Regions from separate parts of the Homo sapiens genome. Here all the other regions are linked to region 1. Evidence: fine-mapped expression QTL. A gene starts in region 1. Each other region holds a variant in brackets. All regions are shown on one strand. Distances are from middle to middle.

Region 1 (7,826 bases):
GGAGAATTAGGAAAAAGCCCACGAATTATTCAGTGATGTCCACCATAACTAAGGGAAAGGAAGAAAATCCTTCTGCCGTCCTTGAGCGGCTACGGGAGGCCTTAAGAAAATATGCTCCCCTGTCATCTGAATCACTAGAGGGTCAATTGATTCTAAAATATAAGTTTATTACCCAATCAGCCACAGATATCAGGAGAAAGCTCCAAAAGCAAGCCCTGGGCCCTGAACAAAATTTGGAGGCATTATTAAACCTGGCAACCTCGGTGTTCTATAATAGGGACCAAGAGGAACAGGCCGAAAAGGAAAAGCGAGATCAGAGAAAGACCGCAGCCTTAGTCGTGGCCCTCAGACAAACAAACCTTGGTGGTTCAGAGAGGACAGAAAATGGAGCATGCCAATCACCCGGTAGGGCTTGTTATCAGTGTGGTTTACAAGGACGCTTTAAAAAAGACTGTCCAAACAAGCTGCCCCCTCACCCATGTCCACTATGCCAAAGCAATCACTGGAAGGCACACTGCCCCAGAGGACAAAGGTTCTCTGGGACAGAAGCCCCCAACCAGATGATCCAACAACAGGACTGAGGGTGCCTGGGGCAAGCACCAGCTCATGTCATCACTCTCACTGAGCCCCAGGTATGTATAACCATTGAGGGGCAGGAAATTGACTTCCTCCTGGACACTGGTGCAGCTTTCTCAGTGTTAATCTCCTGTCCTGGACAGCTGTCCTCAAGTTCCATTACCATCCAAGGAATCCTGGGACAGCCTGTAACCAGGTGTTTCTCCCACCTCCTCAGATGTAATTGGGAGACTTTGCTCTTTTCACATGTCTTTCTTGTTATGCCTGAAAGTCCCACACCCTTATTAGGGAGGGATATATTAGCCAAAGCTGGAGCTATTATCTAAACGAATATGAGGAATAAGTTACCCATTTGTTGTCCCCTACTTGAGAGGGGAATCAACCCTGAAGTCTGGGCATTGGAAGAAACAAACTCAAGCTCTAGCCTTAAGCCTTCCCAAAGGATGAAACTTTTCTTTAAACATCACAGAGAAAGCAGAAATAGCTCCTGGGGTCCTTACTCAGACTCGTGGGACAACCCCATGACCAGTGGCATACCTAAGTAAGGAAACTGATATAGTAGCAAAAGGCTGGCCTCACTGTTTAAGGGTAGTTGTGGCAGTGGCCATCTTAGTGTCAGAGGCTATCAAAATAATATAAGGAAAGGGTCTCACTGTCTGGATACTCATGATGTAAATGGCATACTAGGTGCCAAAGGAAGTTTATGGCTATCAGACAACTGCCTACTTAGATACCAGGTGCTACTCCTTGAGGGACCAGTGCTTCAAATACCTATATGCGTGGCCCTCAACCCTGCCACTTTTCTCCCAGAGGTTGGGGAACCAATTGAGCATGACTGCCAACAAATTAGTCCAGACTTATGCTGCCCGAGATGATCCCTTAGAAGTCCCCTTAGCTAATCCTGACCTTAACCTATATACCGATGGAAGTTCATTTATGGAGAATGGGATACAAAGGACAGATTATGCCATATTTAGCGATGTAACCATACTTGAAAGTAAGCCTCTTCCCCCAGGGACCAGCACCCAGTTAGGAGAACTAGTGGCACTTACCCGAGCCTTAGAACTGGGAAAGGAAAAAGCAATAAATGTGTATACAGAGAGCAACCATGCTTATCTAATCCTACATGCCCATGCTGCAATATGGAAAGAAAGGGAGTTCCTAACCTCTGGGGGAACCCCCATTAAATAACACAGGGAAACCACGGAGTTATTGCACGCGGTGCAAAAACCCAAGGAGGTGGCAGTCTTACACTGCTGAAGCCATCAAAAGGTGAAGGAGAGGGAAGAACAGCAGCATAAGCCACTGGCAGAGGCAGGGAAACACCAGCAGAAAGGAAAGCAAGAAAGAGACAGAAAGTCAGAGAGAGAGAGACAGAGAGAGGAAGAGAGAGACGAAGAAGTCAAAGAGAGAGATAGAAGTAGTAAAGAAAAAACAGTGTACCCTATTCCTTTAAAAGCCAGGGTAAATTTAAAACCTATAATTGATAACTGAAGGTCTTCTCAGAAACCCTATAACACTCCAATACCACCTTGCTGTCAGTGTAAACAAGGGCGTAGCCTGAAAGCACTGAGGCCACTGACAACCAGTAGCCTTCCTATCAAAAATCCTTACCCAGCAGGTTTCCTAACAGGGGATCTAAATCTTAATTAATTCCCATACAAAGGTCTGACCAGATCTAGGAGGAACTCCCTTCAGGACAGGACGGATAGATGGTTCCTCCTGGGCAATTAAGGAAAAAAAAAACACAATGGGTATTCAGTAAATAATAAGGAAACTCTTGTAGAAGCAGTGTTAGGAAAATTGCCTAATAATTGGTCTGCTCAAATGTGTCAGCTGTTTGCACTCAGCCAAACCTTAAAATACTTACAGAATCAGGAAGGAGCCATCTATACCAATTCTAAGTTAATATGGACTGAACGAGGTCTTACTAATAGCAAAGAATAATTGAAATCCCAAACTTACAAGGTTTTCAACTAACGTAAAGTTTGCTAAAAGTTAACAGTGTAACATGCATTATCCTACTACCATACACTCTCAAAGGATTTCTCAGACAGTTTGCATGAAATAATGAAATCTATCCTTACTCTACAATCCCAAACAGACTCTTTGGCAGCAGCGACTCTCCAAAATCGCCAAGGCCTAGACCTCCTCACTGCTGAGAAAGGAGGACTGTGCAGCTTCTTAGGGGAAGAGTGTTGTTTTTACACTAACCAGTCAGGGATAGCACGAGATGCCACCCGGTGTTTACAGGAAAAGGCTTCTGAAATCAGACAACACCTTTCAAACTCTTATACCAACCTCTGGAGTTGGGCAACATGGCTTCTCCCCTTTCTAGGTCCTGTGGCAGCCATCTTGCTGTTACTTGTCTTTGGGCCCTGTGTTTTTAACCTTCTTGTCAAATTTGTTTCCTCTAGAATTGAGGCCCTCAAGCTACAGATGGTCTTACAAATGGAACCCCAAATGAGTTCAACTAACAACTTCTACCGAGGACCCCTGGACTGACCTGCTGGCCCTTCCACTGGCCTAAAGAGTTCCCCTCTGGAGGACACTACACCTACAGGGCCCCTTCTTCGCCCCTATCCAGCAGAAAGTAGCTAGAGCAGTCATCAGCCAAATTCCCATCAGCAATTGGGGTGTCCTGTTTAGAGGGGGGATTGAGAGGTGAAGCTGGCTGGGCTTCTGGGTCAGGTGGGGACTCAGAGAACTTTTCTGTCTAGCTAAAGGATTGTAAACGCACCAATCAGCACTCTGTGTGTAGCTAAAAGTTTGTAAACGCACCAATCAGCACTCTGTCAAAATGGACCAATCAGCACTCTGTAAAATGGACCAATCAGCACTCTGTAAAATGGACCAATCAGCACTTTGTAAAGTGGACCAATCAGCTCTCTGTAAAATGGACCAATCAGCAGGATATGGGTGGAGCCAAATAAGGGAATAAAAGCAGGCCACCCCAGCCAGCAGCGGCAACCTGCTCGGGTCTGCTTCCACGTCGTGGAAGTTTTGTTCTTTCGCTCTTCGCAACGAATCTTGCTGCTGCTCACTCTTTGGGTCCACACTGCCTTTATGAGCTGTAACACTCACCACAAAGGTCTACGGCTTTACTCCTGAAGTCAGTGAAACCACGAACCCACCGGGAGGAACGAACAACTCCGGACGCGCCACCTTTAAGATCTGTAACACTCACTGTGAAGGTCTGCAGCTGCACTCCTGAAGTCAGCAAGACCACGAACTCACCAGAAGGAAGAAACTCCAGACACATCTGAACATCGAAAGGAACAAACTCCAGACACGCCATCTTTAACAACTGTAGCACTCACAGCGAGAGTCCGCAGCTTCATTCTTGAAGTCACCAAGACCAAAAACCTACTGGAAGGAACCAATTCCGGACACACCATCACCTACGTATTAAGCTCAGCATCACTTAGCTATACTTCTTGATGCTCTCCCTCCCACCACCCCCAACTCCAACAAGCCCCAGTGTGTGTTGTTCCCCACTGTGTCCGTGTGTTCTCATCATTTAGCTCCCACTTACAAGTGAGAACATGCAGTGTTTGGTTTCTGTTCCTGCATTAGTTTGCTGAGGATAATCACTGGAAATACTTGCTCTGTATTTAGAGTTCATAAAATTTGCAACTTATAAAAAGCAGATTCGTATACCTAAGTTATTCCAAATGTAAGTTTTCTATTAACTTATCAGTTTTTAAATTTATATTAAATTAAAAATCAGGTTCTTAATAGCCACAGGTGACCAGCAGTTTCTGTATAAGACAGTACAACTGTTAGAAGTGATTGCTTTAAATGAGGCACTCGCTTCAGGCACTAAGTTTTGAGGGGTGGGGTGCCAGAAGCTCAGTGATCAAGGTAGACAATATTTCAATGCAATATGTTTTTAAAAATTCAAAATCAGGCCAAGCATAGTGGCTCATGCCTGTAATCCCAGCATTTTGGGAGGCCACGATGGGCGGAACAATATTTAAGGTTTAGAAAAATATTTGTGCCCAGGTGTTGGAGACCAGCCTGGGCAACATGGCAAAACCCCGCCTCTACAAAAAATAAATTAATTAGCCCGACATAGTGGTGCACGCATATAGTCCCAGCCACTCAGGAGGCTGAGGTGGGAGGATCGCTTGAGCCATGAAGGTTGAGGCTGCAGTGAGCTGTCATCTCACCACTGCACTCCAACCTGAGTGACAGAGTGAGACCCTGTCTCAAAAAAAAAAAAAAAACCAAAATCAATGCAAAAGATGAATTATGGACAGGATATTGAGGTTTTGAATACAGACATTAACTCAATAAGGGTAAGGCCCGTGTCTGTTTTCTTTATTGTTATATTGACAGTACTTTGAACAAAGTCTGGCTCTTACAGTTGTTTGTCAATATTTGCTGAATGAATTCAAAGGGGACAAAATGTTTAAGGTATGGGTGTTTGACATTTTCTGCCTAGATCCCCAATACCACTCTTGTCTTTATTGGGTCCTTATTACAAAGCACCATTGGCGAAGGTATGGAAGAGAAGCAGTCTCCTACAATTGTGGGTAAGAGTGGATTTTTAAAGCTATTTGGCAATATCCGTCAAAACTTAAAATGTATATAGATTTTAGCTCCAAATTTCTCAGTTTACACCCAACAGAAATAACAGCATAGATGTATAGCATTGCAGTGTTGCTTGTTGAATCAAAAGACTGGAGTGGAAGCAGGGACTTAAGTTTCCGCCTGTAATCCCAGCACCTTGGGAGGCAGAGGCGGGCGCATCCCTTGAGATCACGACTGGGTGACACAGTGAGACGCTATCTCAAACAAACAAACAAACAAACAAACAGTTACACGGGCAGCATGCGAACTCAGCGTACTCAGGGAGGCAGATAAAAGCCGAGACCAAAGTGAAGGAGCCCAGCTGCAAATTCAACTCCGAAAGACCCTGGACTCCGCAAACGTCTGGCCGCGGCTCTTGAGCTCTTCTATTAAGTTTCGGTTTCTGAAGCTTACGTTTAGTTTCGATTTCTTAAGTTTCAGTTTCTGAGCGCTCGGCATCTGATTCAATCTCCAGTTTCCTGTTCTTGCTGGGGCTGGGGTCTCTCCTTTAACAAAGACACGCCGCGCGGCCGAGTCCAGGGGCTGCAGAGGCCTGGCGCGCGCACGCGCACGCGCACGCCCACCGCGCGGCTTCCCGCGGTCCCCGGTGCTGAGGAGAGAGCGATCCGAGGGACTGCGCCGCCCGGACGGCCTGCAGAGCGCTGCCATCATGAGGTAAGGGTTTTCCTTTGCCTCTCCTCCCAAGCCCTGCGTCGGCCTTGGTTTCAAACCGGGCTGCTTTTATTCATTTCCAGCGCAGTTCTGCGGCCTTTTCAGGGGCCGAGCCCCTCGCGCCCAGCAACCGGGCATCTGCGTTGGGGACCCTCCCCGGGCGCTCTGTCCCGGCGCGCGGCGTCTGAAGTCGGGCCTGCCGGGGAGGGTGGCCGAGTGGACGCTTCTCGGGAGTCCGGCCCCTCCCCAGCGCCTAAGAAGGCCGGTCAGGGAGGAGGAACAGGAGATGCTCCCCGGGAGCCTGTCCCATCCCTGGCGTCTGCGGTCGGGACTGTCAGGGTATGTGCCGGGCGACGCTCCCCCGGAAGGCCTGTCCACCCATCGCGACCCGACGGCTCTTCTCGGCAGCGGCGACGGTGACCGTGCTGGGTCCGCGGCCGCCGCCTCCGGGAAACTGGTCAGCGCCTGCAGAGCCCCCAGGCGCTGTTCCGGGGGCAGCTGCTACGTGCCACGGGTCTCCTTAGGCCTGTCGCGTGCCTCTCTTTCCAGCTGCCATTCCCTCGGTGTGGCATACGCGGTTTCGCCGCAGCCCTGCAGGCGTCAGGTTCGCCTGCCACTGCCAGTTTGCGTTTCTGATTTCTGGGTCTGAGTTCTTCCCTTCCCAGGAGCTACCTCTGTACCAAGCACAGATTGTTATCGTCCCACCCAATCCGCTGTTTTATGAGGATTTCTTTATCTGTTTCCTTTACTGATTTAGTATGATGGCGTCCTTTTCTTGATCATTTTGTATCCCCAGGGGCTAGCACCCCGCCCTGCACGTGGTTAGTGAACCTTCCGCATTTAATGAGTTGAGGAATGAGATGTTAAGGTCTTGGGCTCTAAAAGCAGATAGTCCCTTGTTCTAAATCCGGACTGAACTCCTACTAGTTGAGTGATCCCAAAGTTTCTCAAACTCTGTGAGTCTGTTCCTTATTTGTAAAAATTAATGGTGTCCATCTCTTGGGACTGTGGAAAAGGACAGTAATAAATCCTATCAGTTGACTGCTTAGCACATAATACTTGCACAATAAATGTTAATTATTCCCATTATAAGTTTAAAAAAAAAGTTTAAGTGCCACCCACACATCTAACTTTATTTTTGAGACGGAGTCTCGCCCTGTCACCCAGGCTGTAGTGTAATGGCTCCATCTCGGCTCACTGCAACCTCCGCCTCCCGGGTTCAAGCCATTCCCCTGCCTCAGCTTCCCGTGTAGCTGGGATTACAGGCGTGTGCCACCACGCCTGGCTAATTTTTTGTATCTTTAGTAGAGACGCGGGTTTCACCATGTTGACCGGGCTGGTCTCGAATTCCTGACCTCGTGGTCCACCCGCCTCAGCCTCCCAAAGTGCTGGGATTACAGGCGTGAGCCACAACGCCTGGCCACATCTAACATTTGTAAGAAAGGAGAGTGCTATCAGGAAGGGGCTTGACAACAACAACAACAACAAAACAACAACAACAACAAAAAACAGAAAAAGACGGTGGCGTGCACCGTATATATGCAGGATGGGGAGGAAAAGGGCTCAGCCCCATTGGGGACTGTCTCCCAAGGACAATGAAAGTCTGCTTCTTCCTAGCAGAAGAACAGAATTACCGAAAGATACGTGTTACCTCTTCTGATGCAATAGCTTCTCTCTTATTAGCTTCCCAAAGACAAAGTTACAAAATTAAGTAGACAAAGTTTAAACAATAAAAATTCTCATGGTGTCCAGTTGTGCATAAATTCCAGAGCCTGGACAAACCACGTCAGTACCTGATTGAATGTCCCTTTGAGATCTTACAACCAAATCCATAATACCTGAGCAGCCCTCCTCATCCTCCTTGGGCTGGGCTGGTAGAGACCTTCAAAACAGGTGTTTGTTTTAGGCAGGGGGCTGGTAAAGCCATGTTGTTGTGGATTTAAGCAGGCTGTAAGGACATGGCATGTCTTGCCCATATTTTTGGTACAATTACACTAGAGAAA
Region 2 (10,649 bases), 54 kb before region 1:
CAAAATGGCAGAGTTTAACTGGTATATGAACTTCTTCTAGAACACTTGACTGGTAGGGAAACAATGCCTCAAGTGAGCATGTGCACAATTTCAGTAAACACACTGAGCATGCAGCCCCAGCCCCTCCCAAGTGCTGGCAGATCCCTGCACATGTAGACAGCCCAACCCAAGGGAAGAAACAGGGGAGAAATAACGAAAGACCCCAGAAGCATGCCAACTTGCAAACCCCAAGTCAAAGGTTAAATGAAATAACAAAAGACCCCAGAATTTCCTTGTGGGCAAATTGTGAAGGAAGTAACGAAAGACCCCAGAAGCATGCCAACTTGCAAACCCCAAGTCAAAGGTTAAACCATGCACTTGAATCTCTTAAGTTACCCACTTGGCCCTCTTTCAAGGTCAAGAATATAAAGCACACTGGGAGGCCGAGCCTGGCAGATCACGAGGTCAGAAGATCGAGACCATCCTGGCTAACATGGTGAAAACCCGTCTCTACTAAAAATACAAAAAAATTAGCTGGGTGTGGCAGCGTGCACCTGTAGTCCCAGCTGCTGGGGAGGCTGAGGCAGGAGAATGTTGTGAACCAGGGAGGCAGAGCTTGCAGTGAGCCGAGATCACGCCACTGCACTCTAGCCTGGGTGACAGAATGAGACTCCGTCTCAAAAAAAAAAAAGAATATAAAGTGCATTCAAGTACTTCACTTCCCCTTATTCCTGCTCTAAAACTTTTTAATAAACTTTCTCTCCTGCTCTGAAACTTGCCTCAATCTCTCTCTTTGCCTTTTCCCCTCAGTCGATTTCTTTCTTCTAAGGAGGCAAGAATTAAGGTTGCTGCAGAACTGTATGGATTTGCTGCTGCTAACCAAATGACTATTCCTCTACCCCACCACCATATATAAATTGTGTATTCAGTGAAAGGCTGATCAAAGATCCAAAAGAATGCAACCTTTTGTCTCTTATCCGCCTATCACCTGGAAGCTCCCACTTTGAGTTGTGCCACCTTTCTGAACCAAATCAACGTACATCTTACATGTACTGATTGATGTCTCCTGTCTTCCTAAAATGTATAAAACCAAGCTGTGCCCTACCTTGGGCACATGTCCTCAGGATCTCCTAAGGGCAATGTCATGGGCCATTGGTCACTCATATTTGGCTCAGAATAAATCTCTTCAAATATTTTAGAGTTTGACTCTTTTCATTGACAGACACAAGACTAGTCATGCCATGTAGGAGATGGAGTTCGTATTCAAGTCGTTCTCCTTCAAAGCTCATAAGTTAGAAGTTTTGTTCTTGTTTTTGTTTTTTCTGAGACAGAGGCTGACTGTGTCGCCCAAGTTGGAGTGCAGTGGTGCAATCTCGGCTCAATGCAACCTCTGCCTCTCAGGTTCAAGCAATTCTACTGCTTCAGCCTCCCGAGTAGCTGGAATTACAGGCACCCACCACCACGCCCTGCTAATTTTTGTATTTTTAGTAGACATGGGGTTTCACCGTCTTGGCCAGGCTGGTCTTGAACTCCTGACCTTGTGATCCACCTGCCTCGGCCTCCCAAAGTGCTGGGATTACAGGTGTGCACCACCATGCCCGGTGTATGTTAGAAGGTTTTCAAAGTGTGGAGGTGGCTAGGCTTGCTGCTGACTGGTTGGGCAAAGACAAAATCATAGACAGTTGAAGCTGTCCTCCTGCATGCTGAATTGCTTCTGGATGGGGCCACAGGAGGAGGATTGGTGGATTCAGGTGGGTCCAGGTGGAGCCATGGGTATCAGACATGCAAAAAACCTGAAAAGATGTGTCAAAAGGCCAATTTTAGGGTCCTACAATAGTGTTGTTATTTGCAGGAGTAATTGGGGAAGTTGTGAATTGTTTAACCTCAGGAATAACGGCTATCAAACTTTTATGTCTGCCCCCTAGTAGGATTCAGTCTCCGCTCCTCCCCACAGCCTAAGGGACTCTCATTAGCTTTACAAAAGTGGTTGAGTTTGGGGGACAGCCTATTACCATTTAAACTATAATCTAATGTCTTCCAAAGTTAGCTCAACCCAATAGCCCAGAAATAATTATGGGAAAGGCAAGATGGGGGTTGGTGAGTTAGCTCAGATCTCATTCCCTGTCATAATTTTCTCACTGATACAATTTTTGCAAAGATGGTTTCAGCCTGAAGGCTGCAATCCCCTTATGAGAAATAAAGCTCTCCTTTCAAAATTTATGAAGTTTGTTATTCTTCAGTTGAAATTATAAAGGATACAACTATTAGAGACATTTGAACCAGAGAAACTCCATCTTGAATAGGGGCTGGGTGAAATAAGGCTGAGACCTACTGGGCTGCACTCCCAAGAGCTTAGGCATTCTTAGTCATAGGATGACATAGGAGGTCAGGACAAGATACAGGTCAAAAAGGCCCAGCTGATGAAACAGGATGCGGTAAAGAAGCCAGCCAAAACCAAGATGGTGATGAAAATGACCTCTGGTCATCCTCACTGCTCATTATATGCTAATTATAATGCTAAATTTAGCATTATAATTTAGCATTAGCATGCTAAAAGACACTCCCATCAGCGCCATGGCATTTTGCCATGGCAACATTCAGAAGTTAACCTATATGGTCTAAAAGTGGGAGGAATCCTCAATTCTGTGAATTGCTTGCCTTTTTCCCAGAATACTCATGAATAATCCATCCCCTGTGTAGCATATAATCAAGAAATAACTTTAAGTATACACAGTTGAAAAGCCCATGCTGCTGCTCTGCCTATGGAGTAGGCTTTCTTTTATTCCTTTACTTTCTTAATAAACTTGCTTTCACTTTACTCTGTGGACTTGCCCTGATTTCTTTCTTGTGTGAGCTCCAAGAACCCCCTTTTTGAGTCTGTATTGGGACCCCTTTCCTGTAACACAACTAAGGAACAACCAAATGGAAGAGTTGCATAGGGCAAGGTATGGGGTGAGTAGGGGGAGGAAGGGTGGGCATGGAGCTTCCATGTTTTTGCTTGGGATGCTACTCTTCCAGCACCTCAATGTGTTCACCAACTCAAAACCTCTCAGAACCCCATCCTTTAAAGCAGGTGTCCCCAATCCCTGGGCTACAGACTGGTAGTAGTCCGAGGCCTGTTAGGAACTGGGCTATACAGCAGGAGGTGAGCAGCAGGCGAGCAATCAAAGCTTCCTCTGTATTAACAGCCATTCCCCATCACTCACATTACTGTCTGAGTTCCGCCTCCTGTCAGATCAACAGAGGCATTAGATTCTCAAAAGAGCACGAACCCTATTGTGAACTCTGCATCCGATGAACCTAGGTTGCGCATTCCTTATGAGAATCTAATGCCTGCTGATCTGCCACTGTCTCCCATCACCCCCAGATGGGACCGTCTAGTTGCAGGAAAACAAGCTCAGGGCTCCCACTGATTCTACATTATAGTGAGTTGTATAATTATTTCGTTTATATTACAATGTAATAATAATAGAAATAAAGTGCACAATAAATGTAATGTGCTTGAATCATCCTGAAACCATCCCTGCCCAGTCTGTGGAAAAACTGACTTCCACAAAACCAGTCCCTGGTGCCAAAAAGGTTGGGGATTGCTGCTTGAGGGGTTTTTATGGAGGTTCACAATATATAGGTAAGATTTTGATGACTGATTGAATCATTGGCCACTGGTGACTGAACTCACTTTCTAGCTCTTCTTCCCTCCCCAGAGGTTGGGGGATGGGGCTGAAAGTTCCAACCCTCTAATCATGCCTTGGTCTTTTTGGCAACCAGCCCACATAATGAACTATCTAGGGGCCCCCAGTAGTGTGACTTCATTAACATAAACTCAGGCATGGTTGAAAGGGGTCTGTTATGAATAAGAAAACATGCTTCCTATCACTGTTGGAAATTCCAAGGAATTTAGAAGCTCTGTGACAGGAACCAGGGACAAAGGCTAAGGAGATATTTCGTATTATACCATAGCAGTGCTATTTACATGGGAAACAAGATCACCAGGAAATCCTCCCTGAATCTAAACCCCTCACTTGCCTAAGAAGCACCAAAGGACACAGGACAAACCTGAGGAGCCTCTCAGCTGGAACCAAGCACTATGTAGCAACTGTGTCTCTCAAGAAACTATGAGGTCAACCTCTTGGTGCTCCTGGACTTTTGTTTCTAGCATATTTTTAAATTCCTGTATTTTTCTAGAATGCAAATTTCCCTGCAGACTCCTCCTAAGAAAGGCAAACTTTCTAACTCTTCTATTATGCTTTCTTACTAAGTTAACAGACACAGACCCAGAAAGAAAATAAAGTTGTGTTAACAGTAAAAGTCATTGCATTTGTGTCATAATTCTAACCGAATGAAAACATCACAAGCGATGTTCATAGAATTGCAAACCAGACAAAACTGACCTGAGGTTTGAGAGGAGCTGAATGAGACAGGATGATGGGAGGAGTGAGTTTTAATCTATTCAGGCTAAGATGGATCACTCAAAGGTAGGTAGTAAAATAAAAGAATTTTAAAGGTAGCTATGTTCAATTTTTATTTGAAAGCATCAATGCTTGGGGTTTTGTTGTGATGATAACCATTAAAATAAGATTTATCTTTTCAACAGATGTTAGGAAATATAAAACCTAACCAAAATTAAGGTATATCTTATTCAAAAGGTACACATTCCTCTTTTCCTGTTTGGTTTTGTGCTGGTAAGTTGCAGAAAGTATTTTCTTCTCAACATTATACTGACTGACTTGCTAGAATCTTTTCATCTGATATAGTGTCAGGAGAAGGATAACTGAGAAAAAAAAAGAGGACCCTATTCTCAGATGCATCTTCCACCATTTAAATACCTGTAACTGCCTGCTGCGAAGAGGTCTGCAGGAAGGACAGAGACCACTTTCTATTAGTTCCTCCATGTGGTGAGAAGATAATCTGGCCGCCTGAGCCACAGTCCCAGGAAGGCCATTAAATGCCCTGCAGAATCAAAACCACAGTGAGATAGCATCTCATCCTGGTTAGAATGGCTACTATCAAAAAAACAAAAATAATGAATGCTGATGAGGATGCAGAGAATGGGGAACCTTATATACTGTTGGTGGGAATGTAAATTAGTACAGCCACTATGGAAAACAGTATGACGTTTCCCCCCAAAACTGAAAATGGATTTATTATGTGATCCACTGCTGGATATATATTTTTAAAAATTGACATCAAGTTATCAAAGCGATATCTGTATTCTCATGTTCATTGGAGCACCATTCACAATAGCCAAGATATAAAAACAAACTAAGTGTCCATCAGTGGATGAATAAAGAAAATGTAGCTTATAGACACAGTGGAATATTATTCAACTATAAAAAAGAATGAAATCCTGTCATTTGCAACAACATGGATAGAACTGGAGGTCATTATGTTAAGTGAAATAAGCTAGGCACAGAAAGACAAATATTGCACATTCTCAATCATATGCGGGAACTAAGAACAAAGTGGATCTCATGGACATAGAGAGTGGAATGTTGGTTACCAAAGGCTGGGAAGGGTAGAGGGGAGGGAAGATAAAGAGGGGTTTGTTAATGGGCACAAAAATGTCATTAAATAGAAGGAATAATTTCTAGTGTTCGATAGTACAGTAGGGTGGCTATAAGTTATTGCATATTTCAAAATAGCTAGAAGAATTGGAATGCTCTCAACACAAAGAAAAAATAAATTATTGAGATGATGGACATCCCAATTACCCTGATTTGATGATTACACACTGTATAAATGTATCAAAATATCAGTTCTTTCAGTGAATGGAGCAAAGGAGGATGCCCATCAGCCAGCAGGTGTCAGGGGTTTTCTCAGGTGAGCTGCCCTTTTGTCCATTTTTGGCACTGCTGGAGAGGAGCAGCCCAACCCGTCCGTGATCTTGGGCCTCTGAGAATAGAGGAAGCTTGATGTGGGCCTCAGTCCAACTTAATCTGGAAAGTCTGCCTAAGGCATATTTTAGAGAGGGAGGACACATTTTGGGGCACATA[T/A]GTTTTATATTGTTGCACCCCAAAATATATATAACTATTATGTCTCAATAAAATAAATAAATTGATGAATTAGTTAATTAAAAATAAAAATAAATGCCCTGTAGGGCAGTATTTGAGGAATAGGATATTGGTGAGAGAGATTCACTACTAAGAGGTTCCTATTTTTGTTAACTGCATTCCTGGTCACGAAATCATGTTAATCCTAGTGCTACACATGGGGTTGACCAGGAAACCAGGTTGACCTGCCCAGGGCCTTAGCAGCCAGCCTGCCCAAGAGGCTTTTCAGCAAAATGCTCAGGTGTGTCCAGAGCCCTCTGACCTGAAGGGCCTCAAGGAGAACCTCTAGATTATGCTGGACTGAAGCCCTCATCAAGCTGCTCCTATTCGCAGAGGCTCAAGACCATGGCAAGGTGGGGTGCTCCTCCCAGAAATGCCAAAATTTGACAAAAGGGGAGCTCACATAGGAAAACACGTGTCACCTAATGGTTGATGGGCGTCTTCCTCTCACCCATCCACTGAAGGCCTGGATCTCCCTCTCTATCTATCTCTCTCTCTCTCTCTCACACACACACACACACACACACACACAAACACACACACACACAATGATAATGCCAACCCTAATGCTAATGCCTAAGTTCTATGTTCTGCTTGGTAATTAGCTCACTCTGCCTTGATCTCTTATTGCGTTACCTCAGCATTCTCACTATAGTTCTATAACTAGGAATGATTATAACTCTTACTGGGTCATTTTGCAAATGAAGAATTTGGAAATTGAAGTTAATTACTTAAACTCACACATGTACTAAGTGGGGCAGAATTGGGTTGTTAACCAGGTTCCCTGACTCTCTGCTTCCTAATCATAAAACATATGAGAATGAACTATCTTACTGCCCTTTATTTGCTCAGTTTTTAAAGAAATAGGAACCTGGAGGATTTTAAGTGCCTAGCATCTATTTAGAGAGTAACAACTACTGTTTAATAACATTTCACCCCAGAATGTGCCTGTGGCTCACAATCTAGAGAGGAAAAGATGGCCCATGTTGGGGAGGACACACCCATAATCAACACAAAAGAAAAACCTCTCCTGCTTGTTGCCAAGGCAGCCAAGCATTATTGTTCAGATTATTCATTAGCCAAAGGGGTAAGGGAAGAGAATGAAACCCAGTCTACATTTGGCTCACCAAGATAAGTGTCCTGGCAAGGGACACATATACTCACAGAAAAGGGCACTCTTTTCTAATTTACACAAGCACCATAGAGACTAGAAGTGGTACATGTGAGGCTAAGAGTGATGGTTTAAAAAGAATTGGATTTTTACTAGAGATGGGTTTTCTCCATGTTGGTCAGGCTGGTCTCGAACTCCCAACCTCAGGTGATCCACCCGCCTCGGCCTCCCAAGGCATGAGCCAGGCATGAGCCACTGCACCTGGCTCGTTCCCCATCAAACATGGGGATTCCCTAAGATCACAGCAGTCAATCTCAATGATCTTTCCTGCTTCAATGTTTTCTCTGTGTATTAATTTCCTAGGGCTGCCATAACATAGTACCACAAATTGGGTGGCTTAAAACCACAGAAATTTGTTCTCTCTCAGTTTTGGAGCCCAAGAGCCTAAAATCAAGGTATCAGCAGAGCCATGCGCCCTTTGAAACTCCCCGCAGCATCCTTCCTTGCCTCCTCTTAGGTGCCATGCTCTCTCTTCACATGGCATCCTTCCTTGTGTTTTTATATCTTCCCTCCGTGTGTGCCTGACTCTGTCTCATTTCCTCTCCTTATGAGGACATCAGTCACATTGGGTTAGCGTCCTCCCAATGTGCTCATCTTTGATTATATCTGCAAAGACCCTATTTCTAAATAAGGTCACATTTACAGGTACTGGGAGCTAGGACTTCAGAGCATCTTTTTGGTGGACACAATTCAACCCTCCAATATGTCATAGATAGGACTGGGCATAAAGGAGTAGTTGGCTCAAAAGCTGCTCCTAACCAATTCTCTTTTGGCATGTTGATGACTCTAAGAAATAATTCTTTGTAAGAAAAAGGAGAAGACCATGCCTGACACTGAGTTTATTCAGAAAAGTCACTTTGCCCACCGTCTTGTTTTAGGGGGAAGAATAAAACTAGAAATGTTTATTTCACTATTTCTGCCTTGGGGAAAGAAGCAGTTGTTTTCAAATCTTAATGGACCAAGTTGGAAACCTAGAGAAAGGTGAGAAAGAGCTTCTCCTTGCCCCAGGTTCATTTCTCCTGACAGCATTATTGCTTTTTTGATGCATGTCATCTGCTATGGCATCCTGAGAAACGAAAGTGTCATATAGCATTGAGGAGTTCAAAACCTATCTAACTGCATTAGTTTTCCAACTAATCTAAGTCACTGGCAGATTTAATCCCTTTCAGCCAGTATTCAAGCAGACAAAATGCATTTGCTGATATCATGATGTTGATAATTTTTAACTAAGGCTTCACAGCCTAGTATGGTTCCTCCTTAGGATATTGCAGGGACAGCACCAAACACTTGGCAATATGGAATGACGTTGACAATGTTAAGCTTTACCTAAGCCTTATGCTCCTGGAAAACAGCTATGGGGAAAAAAAAATCCACCCCCCACCCTCCACCTGCCTTTTTTTTTTTTTTTTTTTTTTTTTTTTTTTTTTTTTGAGACAGGATCTCATTGTGTGTGTCACCCTGGCTGGAGGGCAGTGGTATGATCACAGCTCACTGCAGCCTCAACCTCCTGGGCTCAAGCAATCCTCCTACCTCAGCCTCCCTGAGTAGCTGGGACTACAGGTGTGTGCCACCATGCCCAGATAAATTTTTTTTGCATTTTTTGTAGAGCTAGAGTTTTGCCATGTTGCCCAGGCAGATCTTGAACTCCTAAGCTTAAGCTATCTGCCCACCTTGGCCTCCCAAAGTACTAGGATTGCAGGTGTGAGCCACTGTGCCCAACTATTTAACAATGTTTCTACCTATCTTTTCATTAGATAGCATTCCATTTCCATCAGAAAATCACGCAAATACTTCCTGTTTATTTTCACAGTAAAAATGCTGATTATCATGGAGTCAAAGATAGGCTTGAGCAGTTGAGATGTCACTTTACATGGGGGTTGCTAATTGAAGCCCTTGAAATTTCTGATTTAGAAAACAGGGTCTTGGAAGAGATCCAGTTCGTGGACACAAAGTACAGTGTGGGAATGCACAACATACTAGCTTATGTGAAACACTGGAAGGGCCAGAATGAGAAAGCACTAGAGAAAGAAGTTGAATGAGAACACACCAACCAAGCAGACATGAGTGACCAGTATCATCACATGGGCAGGTGACCTGGGGCAACTTTGCCTGGGCTGGGGCAAATTTGCCTGGGCGTATCACCACATAGGCAGACTGGCAGAAGCCCAGACTTACCTGGATAAGGTAGAGAACATTTGCAAGAAGTTTGCAAATGCTTCCCGCTATAGAATGGAGTGTCCTGAGATGAACTGTGAGGAAGGATGGGCCTTGGCGAAGTGTGGAGGAAAGAATTATGAACAGGCCAAGGCCTGCTTTGAAAAGGCTCTAGAGGTGGGCCCTGAAAATCCTGAATTCAGCACTGGGTATGTCATCACTGCCTATTGCCTGGACGGTTTTAACACAACAGACAGTAATGAGACATTTTCTCTGCACCCCCTAAAATGGGCTGTCAGTCTAAATCCAAAAGATGCACACATTAAGGTTATCCTTGCCCTGAAGCTTCAGGATGAAGGACAGGAAGCTGAAGGAGAAAAGCACACTGAAAAAGCTCTAATCAGTATGTCTTCACAGACCTATGTTTTTCTATATGCAGCCCAGTTTTATCAAAGAAGAGGCAATATAGATAAAGCTCTTCTGCTCTTAAAAATGGCCTTGCAGGGAACACCCACTTCTGCCTTCCTGCATCACCAGATAGGGCTTTGCTGCAGGAAACAGACAAAAAAAGCTAAAGGCAGGATAGAGAAACTGTAGACAAAATAATAAGATTAGTTATATCTCATGTTGAATTTGCTGTAGAGCAAAGGCCCACATTTGCAATGGTTTATGTGGACCTAGCCAACAGGTATGCAGAGGGAGGTGAACACCAAAAAGTTGAGGACATTTACCAGAAAGCACTCAGCCTGCATGATATTAATAAAAGCTGTTGCAAGAGATTTATTATCGTTATGGCCCCTTTCAGGAATGTCATGGGAAGTCTGAAGCTAACACAATTGACTAATATTAAAAAGAGCTGGGCTGGGCGCGGTGGCTCTCGCCTGTAATCCCAGCACTTTGGGAGGCCAAGATGGGAGGATCACAAGGTGAGGAGATGGAGATCATCCTGGCTAACACGGTGAAACCCTGTCTCTACTAAAAATACAAAAAATTAGCCAGGTGTGGTGGCAGGCACCTGTTGTCCCAGCTACTCGGGAGGCTGAGGCAGGAGAATGGCGTGAACCCGAGAGGCGGAGCTTGCAGTGAGCTAAGATCATGCCACTGTACTCCAGCCTGGGCAACAGAGCCAGACTCCATCAAAAAAAAAAAAAAAAAAGCGAGGGGGGGCGGGTGTGGCTAAATATAGAAATTCAGTCAAGTGCTAGAGGAAAAAAATTTTAGTGCTTTACTGAATTGGCTAACAGGCAAGTTCATTTGCTTAAATCTGATGAGGAGAGTTTGAATCTCATTGTGCT
Region 3 (10,649 bases), 23 kb after region 1:
TATTTAACACATCTTAAAATGCTGACCACATCTTAGCATGATCCAGACAGGCCCACTCACCATCCAGTCCAAACCTCTTGTCCGAGGGAAAAATGTCTTTCCAAACACAGGACAATAAATTCATTTTATTTTGCTTTTGAAATAAGAAAATATTAGCATAAATATTTCATCTATTAATGAAATTACAATCTGAACAAAAAGCCCAATCATACAGTGTATCTACAAAGTTAGATAATGTCTTCTGATTTTCTACTCAGATAATTCCAAAGTAGAGCTTACAGTAGTAGAAAGAAATATTTAAGATGTAAAATTATCCCACTATAATTTTGTTCTTGATTCCACAAAATACATCATTCCCATGAATTTCTCAGTTTTGAAATAAACAGTATAGACACATGGAACATTAACACTAAAATTCTGTGTAGAAATGTAAAATAGTAGACCTTAAGATGTACATTTTTCTTACTGATTTTCTAAAAATGCTGCCTCAAAAGGGAAAGTAAAATGCAAATCTATGCATGTATAAAGTCAAATCTCCCAAATGTTTTTATACAAAATCTTTAAAATTTCTGATCACTATGCTTATTTTTCATAAATACTTGTAATACTTCACAGAAATTATATTGCAGAACCACATAAACAAAATTTTGTTGTGATCATGATAAAAAATATGTATAAGAATATTTGTAACTATTCATATTTTTAAACATCTTTAGGCTTGAAAATTCAAGAAATGATATTTAGGGCAAAGTGCTATTCCAAACAGATATAACTTCATCTTAACTTTGACATTTTACAGATACCTTCCAATTTTTTTTTTTTGAGATGGAGTCTTGCTCTGTCGCCCAGGGTGGAGTGCAGTGGCATGATTTTGGCTCACTGCAACCTCCACCTCCTGGGTTCAAGCGATTGTCCGGCCTCAGCCTCATGAGTAGCTGGGACTACAGGCGCCCGCCACCACGCCTGGCTAATTTTTTGCATTTTTAGTAGAGACGGAGTTTCACGATGTTAGCCAGGATGGTCTTGATCTCCTGACCTCATGATCCACCCGCCTCAGCCTCCCAAAGTGCTGGGATTACAGGCGTGAGCGACCATGCCCAGTCCCAAATATTTTTAAAATTGCAAATGACAAAGTCAATGGGGTTCAAAACTAAATTCTTAAACTAAGTAAGGAGATAACAGACAACATTTAAATTTGTCTTTGGAAAACAACTATGAAATATTACCATTTTCTCCTATCAGATCAAGTCAGTATTTCATTCTGAAAGCAATGTATTAACATGTGATTTTATGAAATAATCAAGGTATAGGCAAGCTCTCTTGCGGAGCATACACATTAACTCAGGATCATCCTCATTGCTGTTTTTTTTCCCCCAGCACTTGTGAGGCCTTGTAGGGGACAGTGGATTAAATAGCCTTCAGGGTCAAAACAGTTCCTTGACATTTGGATTTTAAACTCCTGGTAATTAAAATTGATTGCATAATTTACTCCTATTACAGGTGTGACACACTGTGAGATTCAGGATTATAATTCTTTGGACTTAAAATGGTTGGAAACAAGCTGGGGGATCTGGACTTTTTCTTCCCTCCATGCCTTCCCTCTTCAATCTGAAGACTCAGAAATTATCCCAAACCATAGAAAAGTGGAGTATTTGAGAATGAATAAACTTATAATCCAATGAGTAGATTTCTAATTATTATCTATAAAGAGATGAAGAGCAGTGGATAGTGGAACAAGAATTAACACAGGGAGAAAGGAATCTCACCTTTAGAATATCTCTAGGATAATATTTTTCAGACAACTGACTCCCTCCAATCCTCTTTTGGGTAATGATAAAACTAAATGTCTGATCTGCAAAGAAAACTCTCACCAGAGACCTGCTGATTCAAGAATTCAGTTCCTGCCCAATTGGAATACTGCCAACATTTTTCCAACCTAACAGGAATGCGTCTGCAGTCTAAGTAAGAGCTTCTTCTCTGAAGGTAAAAGACGGGAAGTTTTGGTGTTGTTGACATTTCAGGTAAGATTGAGAGGTTGTCCTTGTGACTAAGTGTGTTCTGCTAAATTTAGAGTAAGTATTATATGTGATGGTAACAAATGTGAGAGCCTGGAACCCAGTCTTAGGAAAAGAGCTTTCGGTTTCCAGTGGACAATTTCAAATGGATCTTACCAGATGCCCTTTAAGATCTATTCCAACCATGGCATTCCATGATTATTTGGATTCTCATAGTGGTGTCTACCCTTGGGCAGAGGCAAGGGCTGGCTGGAAGACTAAGAGAAAAAAAAAATAAGAGTTTCTTTCTATATTAATCACCACTTTTTGAAGAATCTCAAGTATTCTTTAACAATCCCAAGTAAAACCCTAATGAGAAACTCCACCATGAAAAAGTATGGCATCTTCACTCTTCACCACCACACCCAAGCTGACCTCCCTTCTCTAACCAGAACAAGGTAAGCAAAGCTACACGTTAATGTTTCCATTTTCTTTCTGAGGAGGGAACATGAAGGGCCTGAGACTGGAACAAAGCTGCTGCCCAGTGTCATCTGCTTTGGTTATGCTTTGAAATTATCCCTAATTACAGCTAATTATATCAGCTGTGTCCTTACATTTCTTACAGAGCTATGCCCATTGACCAAAAGATACGAGTTCAGTTATGAGCACAAATCCCAAATGAGAAGGCTCTGGGCTAGTCCAGCTTTCCTTATTATGTGCTGTTTTCCCTTATAAATATTAATATGTTAACAAAACAATAATAATAATTTCCTTGGAAGGCAATCCTTCTGCCAAAATAAAAAGTTTCAGAAACATGAAGAATCTGGTGGCCCCACCTCTCTCAAACCTGAAGATTCTGGGGCTCAAGGCCTTTGGTCATGTGAGGCTGTAGCCAGGCACTGCTGTAGCCACAGGCTCCCCATGTTTCTGATCTAATTCTCTTGCCACAGAATAAGCCACTGATCCATTGGTCCATAGCTGCAGCTTAGGATCAGATTCTTTGGCAATGAACTGCAACTGGGTTTTTCTCATTCTCTTTATAAGTCTAGCAAAGCCAAGCAACACAGAACTAAATATCATTGAAAATCCACAGAGGAGGAATGCTGCAGTGTAGCTGCCGGTGGTATCTACCAGCCGTCCTGTAACAAACAACAGCAAAATTTTATTTTTGAGTTGAAAATTCAATTGCTTACCCACTCTCAAATTCTAATGATTTGTAAGGATAATAATAGATCGATAGCACCACCAATTGTAACTTTGAAACAAAAAGAGGTCACCTAAAAATATTGTGCAGCAACTGAAAAATACATTCTGTTTTCCAGGAAAACTTCTAGAGTGAATTGATTGTTGTTCTGTAAAGTGCTTGGAAAAGCATCATGTACTTAGTAGTCACAACGTAAATATTAGTTACTATTAACCCCATGAAATCTGGTAAAAAGATAAAAATAGCATCATTTAAATTATTAAGGTTGGAATAATTTACCTAGGGTGTTAAGAGAACATATTTGTACAAAATGCCAGTAGTATTCACAGCACCCATACACTGTTTTGAGTAACATGACATGCTTCAAAGCAGTATCACATTTTCAACTGGATTCAGTCATTGTACTCTATCCAGTTTGAAAATCAGAACTTTCAGCTATTTTAGCAGTTGCAAATGCAAACTAGCTTTTTTTTCTTTATCTCTTGTTGCAACAAATTAATCTCAATATCTATCTCAGCTCTAAATTTTGAGGAAAACCGGGCATATGATATGCAAAATAGGGTCCACAATGACAGAAAACCAGTGGAATAACATTATACTTCGTCAGGCAATTATTTTATAATTAACAAAGGTTTTTTTAAATTCCTTCAAACTTTCCTTATCTGCCAAGAAAACCCACCAGAGAAGTATATGATTTCTTCTCTTACCCACTTCAGATCCATTCGTCAAAAATAGCATGTAGAAGTTGTTATAAGCCCCACAAAATTTCCTGAATTTAAACTGCTCTCAAATATTTTAGTTATTGTTTGATTTACTTGTGCAATTCTATAGCACCAAACAAAAAAGACTGAGTACACAGTTGTCATTTGAAAGGTAAATAAATAAGAAAATGATACAATAAGAATTAATCCTCGAATTTCCAGTAATGAGTATCATGTCTGATTTGCCAATGAAGGCCACGAACTGAATCCCAATTTCATTTGTGTCCTGTGACCTTTGATAGAATGACACTGTTTCTAAAGGTTGGTGAGCACTAAAATAAGCTATGAAAGGAGGATGTGGGAATATTTTGGGGGCAGTTTTCAAAAATGGAGCATTAAACATAAAGATCTGTATCATGGAGTTCAAACTGAACAGGGTTTTGTCATCTGCACCACTCAAGCGGCCACAATTTCCCCTAGTTTGCTGTTTTTATTCCACCCCAATTGCTGGATTTGGAAATAGCCTGAAACTGTCTATTCACAATAATAGCTAATAGCAGAAACTCTGCCTTCCTCAAAAAAATTCCTGCCTTCTTTCTAGGCAAAGTTTTGGGTTATTTCTCTTTTGCCTGTCTTCAGAGAACTTGTTCACTCTCTCAGTTTTAATTTAGGCAGATAATAATATGGAACAGTCATTCTCAATATTTACCTCGCATGAGCATCACAACAAAGCTGGTTGAAAATGCAGATTTCTGGAACTCATCCTCAACATTCAGATCACAGGTGGGAGTGTCAAGGAATCTGCATTTTTAACAAGGTCCCTAGGAGACTCTGATGCAGGTGGTGTAGACCACATGCTTTAGGAAGGAGAAACAGCTTCTGACCTGTTTACTCCTGTCTCTCCAGCATGATAAACACAATGCTAGTTACACATGCAATATGTATTTGTTGAATTACTTGTTTAATGCATACAATAAATATTTGTCAAATTGTTTAATCATGCTTCACTCTATAGCATTTTAGAGTTTATAAAACATTCTATGTGCTTTATATGATGATTCCCAAATCTATATATAAACCAGGCCATCCACTAAAGCTCATATTTCATCTTTAAACAGCTCTATTGAGCATTTTTACCTGTATATTTCAGAAATCTCAACATATCTAAAAACCATATTCATTATTTTTCAGGCAAAGCCACTTTCTCGAATTTCCTTATTTTCTCAACCATGACATTATTTTCTAAGTCATCCTTGACTTCTTTCTCTCATTCACCTCTGTATGCTAAATTCTGCTGAATTTTGTTTTGAAAACTTCTTCCTTGCCCCCAGAGCTCATCTTTATTTCTGCTGCAGCAGCCCTAGCTCAGGCGTTTATCAGCTGCCTCCTAAACTATTAGAATGGAATCTTAGCTACCTCTCTCCTAAGTTACTAGATCAATTGCTAGATCACATTTTCTAACATATATACTTTACCATATTATCCTTTTACATAAAAACTTTAATACTATCCA[C/T]AGTCTCTGAAGAATAGAGCCCAGTTCCTCTGTCTGGCACCCAAAACACTCCACTATGACACTGGCGTTTATAATTTCAGCCTCATCACCCACTGCCCCCTGTTGGAATCCTGTTCTCCCCTGAGACTTCCCTCTGAATGCACCCTACTTATTTATAAGGCTGAACAACTGCTCCATCCCCCTGCTCCCATCATTAATATGGAAAGGAATCAAGACCCTAATTTGGGACTTACTCTTTCCAGGTAGGCTAAGGTTCTTACTTGGTTGGAAGAAGATTATAAAACAAGGATGTAGGTGGGACCATGATGGTTTTGGGGGCTCTTATATCCCTTTTCTCTTTCACTCTTCCCCAACTCTCTTGACAGTCCTTCTCATTGACTGCATGTGGGTTTGCTGTTTTCACATCAATATGCCAAAGAGAAAAGGTGGTTGGGGTTTCTCTCTGGAAACTTACCTGCGATGGGTGGGCTCACCAAGTATGGCACTGCGTGAAGGAAGTATACCACACCAAGCGCTGATGACAAAGAGGTGGTCCCCACTATCTCTGTGGTCACTACTGGGATCAAAGTCACATAGGCACCATCAAAGTAGCCAAAGGTACAAGAGAAAGGCACGAGCAGAGGGAGACTTTGAAGCATTGGGAGGCAGAGATAGCAGAGCCCATCCATTCCCACGGCAAAGAGGTAGCAAACATACTGGTAATTCTTCAGACACCTGTAGATTTGAAGAACAAGAATAAGTGCAGGAGGTACACATTCTGTAAAAGAGCTTTAGAGCCACGGCTATGCAGCAGTAAGCATTGCAGTTATTTACAGAGATGGCTTTCCCATTGTGTGTTATGTATGCTGTCTTCCTATCTTTCTTTTTTGCAAATGCAAGAATTCATCTCTCCAGGAAGCATGGTGTGGTAGAAAGAATATATACTTCAAAATTAGAAAGGTAGAATATTAAAACTAGTCCTGCCACCCACTGCCTGCCTAACTCAATTTCTTTAGCTATAAAATGGAAAGGTTACTTATCTCACAGGGTTACTCTGAAATTAGTCGTGAAATAAAATAGAAATAAAATGTAAAATGGGGTCTCCAATCTTTTGGCTTCCCTGGGCCACATTGGAAGAAGAAGAATTGTCTTGGGCCACACATAAAATAAACTAACACTAATGATAGCTGATGAAAAAAAGAAAGAAAGGAAAGGAAAGGAGGAAGGAAGGAAGGAAGGAAGGAAGGAAATAAGGAGAAAGAAAGAAAAGAAAGAAATAAAGAAAAAGAAAGAAAGAAAGAAAGAAAGAAAGAAAGAAAGAAAGAAAGAAAAAGAAAGAGTGCATAAATCTCAAAATGTTGTAAGAAAGTTTACAAATTTGTGTTGGACCACATTCAAAGCCATCCCAGGCCACAGGCAGCCCATGTGCCACAGGTTGGACAAGCTTGATGTAAAGGATCAGAAGGGTAATTTTCCTAGCAGTCTACCTTATTAGATACTTTTAGGTATGTTATCCATTGGTATCTGGCATGTCATAGATCATAAATACTCAATAACCCAAGTGGTTACACAAAGGGGAAACTGTAATACAAAGACATTAAAATGATTTGCCAGAGATGATGGAGGTCTTGGACTAGGATGAAGTCTAATATATTTCAAGATCTCCCAAGTGGTATTCCCATTAATTTTCCTGATAACTCCAAACCCATTTATGATACCAATAATTTCAAAGAATCTGTATAATGTCAGCTCCAACAGCTTATGCTTTACAAACATTTTTCTACTCACAGCCTCATTTGAACATCACAAAATAGTATAAGGTCAACAGGCAAATATTGCACTGGCTCATTTTACAGATAGAGATCATTGTGGATCTGAGGGTTAGGTGACTTTCTGTAGGTCACAGGGTTAATAAGGAGCAAAGCCAGTGCAAGAACTTAGGTCTAGTATGCCTCAGAGTAGAGATGCCTCCATTAGACCTACACCTGGCTGCTTCTTGCTGAGTTATTTGATTGTGAAAATAGGTAATCTTTGCTCTTCCACTTCTTCTTTAACCATTAAAAATGTGGAATCAATACTAAATATCATATTCATAACACTGGAGAATGGCAGTTGGATCCTGATTAATTACCAAAAACATAATTTGTGAGAAGCTACATGATGGTATTAGCCCTGCAGGTCATATCTCAAGTGTGAATGGTTCATCATTTAGGAGAATATGAGTAGCCTGCACTCTTCAGTCCAAACAGATGAGCATTTGCTGAAGAAATTACTTGGTAGATTTCTTATAACTTTGGTTTCTAAGCCTGCAATTACAAGGAAATTACTTGCAATTTGCATTGTCAAACATGAATATGTGGCTACAGACAATGTGTTATCATTGCACCTGGCCCTCCTGCCTAAACTGAATTCTGCTCCTTTTTCCATTGCCAGTCAGGACTGGTTCAAAAGAAACTAACACCACCACACCCAGCCAAAAGTTGTCTTGCTTGAGGACTGACTTGTCTTGGGATGGAATTAAATCTACCGCCAGAACTTGTAGTTACCCTAGGCTTCTGCAATTTAGACACATCTGGCCCATGACATCTTTTTGTACTACCTGTGAATTAAGAACGGTTTTTCCGTTTAAAAATGGTTGGAAAAAATCAAAAGAACAATATTTTGTGACACATGAAAATTATAAGAGAAATTCACATTTCAGTGTGCATAAAGTCTTATTGGAACGTAGCCACTCTCTTTTGTTTACATATTGTCTGTGGCTGTTTTGTACTATAATAGCAGAGTTGGGTAGTTATGATGAACACTTGGCCTACAAAGCCAAAAATGTTTACTATCTGTTCCTTTACAGAAAATTTTGCCAACCTCTGATCTAGAAGTACCAGCAAGGGAGATGCCTTCAGATACTGCAGACTTGTTAACATTATTCAGACCTAGGTACTCCACAGGGTAAGGGGCTGAGGAGAAACTCAAGGCTTAAAGTCCCCTGGTGGGGAACCAATTGTGGTTTCATGAATTTTACCTTCTGTCGGTCAGCCATCCAAATGTGATATTGCCAATAATGTCAATCACTCCAAGTATGGACATAAGAAAAGCAGCTTGCTGATGACTCACTCCAACACTCAAAGCATAAGGCACCAAGTACACAAAGAGAGGGCTGCAGCCATAAGCCATAAACAGAACGGAGACGGCTAACACAACAAAGTCTGACATGAGTAAAAAACTGTACTCTTGCTGCAAACAGCAACAGAGGCAAGTCTGTGCCCATTCTTTGGTCAAAGATGAATAGGGAGACACCCGCTTAATGTCTTCTTTCTGAGTTCTACACACATGGTTCTGCTCTGGAGTTGTGTGGTCCTCTTTAAGAGTAATTGGCCTCATCAAGGCACCACATACACAGAGATTCAAGACAAAGCCCCCAAGAATGAGTAAGGCTCCCCGCCAGGAAAACTGTTCAATAAGGAGCTGAACCACAGGAGCCAGGATGAAGGTGCCAATGCCACTTCCTGACATGGCGATACCATAAGCAAGGGCTTTCCGTCTGCTGAAGTACTTGCCAACCATGGCAATAGCTGGAGAGTAACAAAGTGCAAATCCAAGACCTGAGGATAAAGAGAACTCTATGAGTGCTGAAGTACCATAAACAGCCAATGATATCTCAGAATACAATGATTTATATTAAAGAGAATCTGACCTCTCATTAAACCCTTTTAAAGCTGCTTTTTACACCAAGCTTAAAATGAGTCTCCCCTCACCAGTCATTCACAATTTGGAAAATGTAGAATATATATGACTTTCTTTTTAGGGAGAACACCCTTAAGGAAATATGACTTCATAAACAAAATTAAATGAAGAACATAAAAATAATTACACAAACTAAATTGGAATTCACTAGAAAATCTGGATAATGCCAACCAAAGAAACTTATCACTTCCTCCATTTTTTAACTTAAATTATCCAGACAATTCCCTAAACGCTTCACTGCCTATGAAGACACAACACTGACAATCTGCACCACTCTGGAATTTGGATTCAAATAGCATGTACAACTATGAAAATTCCAGGGTAATTTTACATAGTTGGGAAACATCATGCCAATTTTATATGTGAACATAGCAATGTATATTTTCATATATGTGAAAATATCTCTTAAGGTCAGCAGACAAATGTTGACACTTTAGAAAGTTTTTAGAGACCTTCAACTTTTGGGCTGGGTGCAGTGGCTCATGCCTGTAATCCCAGCACTTTGGGATGCTGAGGCAGGCAGATCACTCGAGCTCAGGAGTTTGAGACCAGCCTGGGCAATATGGCAAAACCCCATCTCTGCAAAAAAAAATACAAAAATTAACCAGGTGTGGTGGCATGCACCTGTAGTCTTAGCTACTCAGGAGGCTGAAGGGGGAGGATGGCTTGAGCCCAGGAGACAGAGGTTGCAGCTGAGATTGCGCCACTGCACTCCAGCCTGAGGACCGAGCCAGATAGACCCTGTCTCAAAAAAAAAAAAAAAAAAAAAAAAAAAGATCAATTTCTATTACTTTTTAAGTGAAGAAAATCTGAGGGGCTGTGAGCCTGGATTTTATGGCAACTAGAATGTCAGAGAAGGAAAAAGAGAACCACCTTCAGAAGCTCCTGCTTCCAACTGCAGTGCACAGTAGCCAGCAACCCAGAGTTGCCTGGACTGAGGGGTTTCTGGATGTGGGACTTCCAGTGTTAAAACCAGGACAGTGCCTGGTAAACTGGGATCCATTGGTCACCATAGCAGCAGTCAGGGTCTTTGGGTTACTAGGGGTGGGTGTACCTTCTTTAGCTAACATAGCCAAATTTATAGCCTCACTATGAGGTTACGTCCTTTATTGACCTTATTCACGCCACACCAATGGCACAATGCCCAGACAGGAGTTGGCGCTACTCTCCACACCCCTTTGAGTGATAGGCAAACTCCCATTGCAGTCCCACAATCCTATGCAGTCTCTGTAAGAGTGATTTATTGAATGTACATGTTGCTTTTTTCCATGGCATTTATTATGATTTGCTAAAGTGATACTTCCACAGCATTGAGAAAGAATGTGTAATATAAGAATATTCACAATAAAGGGTTTTTTAAAATTAGAAACTCCCATTTATTGGACAGCAATATTCATTATAAAGCAGGAGCAACTCAGATTGACCGTCAATAGTATTTTAATGTCTTGGCAATGGCTGGAAGAATGACCATTGCTGAAAATTCATGTTGCCCTGGGTAATATCTTGTTTCTTCTGAG

What was found. PIP is the estimated chance that this variant, and not a neighbour inherited with it, causes the effect.
Region 2: its variant is the best candidate, but not a certain one, in a credible set for the expression of IFIT5 in sigmoid colon (GTEx, PIP 0.62).
Region 3: its variant is the best candidate, but not a certain one, in a credible set for the expression of IFIT5 in left ventricle (GTEx, PIP 0.83).

Annotation. Positions count from the first base shown.
Region 1 is chr10:89,408,978-89,416,803 of GRCh38, forward strand. IFIT5 (interferon induced protein with tetratricopeptide repeats 5) reads left to right here and starts at 5,591. Exons shown (of 2, transcript NM_012420.3): 1 at 5,591-5,826. The coding sequence starts at 5,822. It also overlaps a transcript of LIPA not described here. RefSeq lists enhancers at 5,448-5,757, 6,368-6,467, 6,568-6,637.
Region 2 is chr10:89,353,283-89,363,931 of GRCh38, forward strand. It overlaps a transcript of LIPA not described here and the pseudogene IFIT6P. Among named protein-coding and RNA genes, the nearest start is that of IFIT1B, 19 kb to the right of the region's middle. The variant T/A (reference allele first, on the strand shown) is at 5,973.
Region 3 is chr10:89,430,194-89,440,842 of GRCh38, forward strand. SLC16A12 (solute carrier family 16 member 12) reads right to left here. Exons shown (of 8, transcript NM_213606.4): 6 at 8,411-8,990; 7 at 5,867-6,126; 8 at 106-3,133. The coding sequence ends at 2,871. Among named protein-coding and RNA genes, the nearest start is that of SLC16A12-AS1, 20 kb to the right of the region's middle. The variant C/T (reference allele first, on the strand shown) is at 5,413.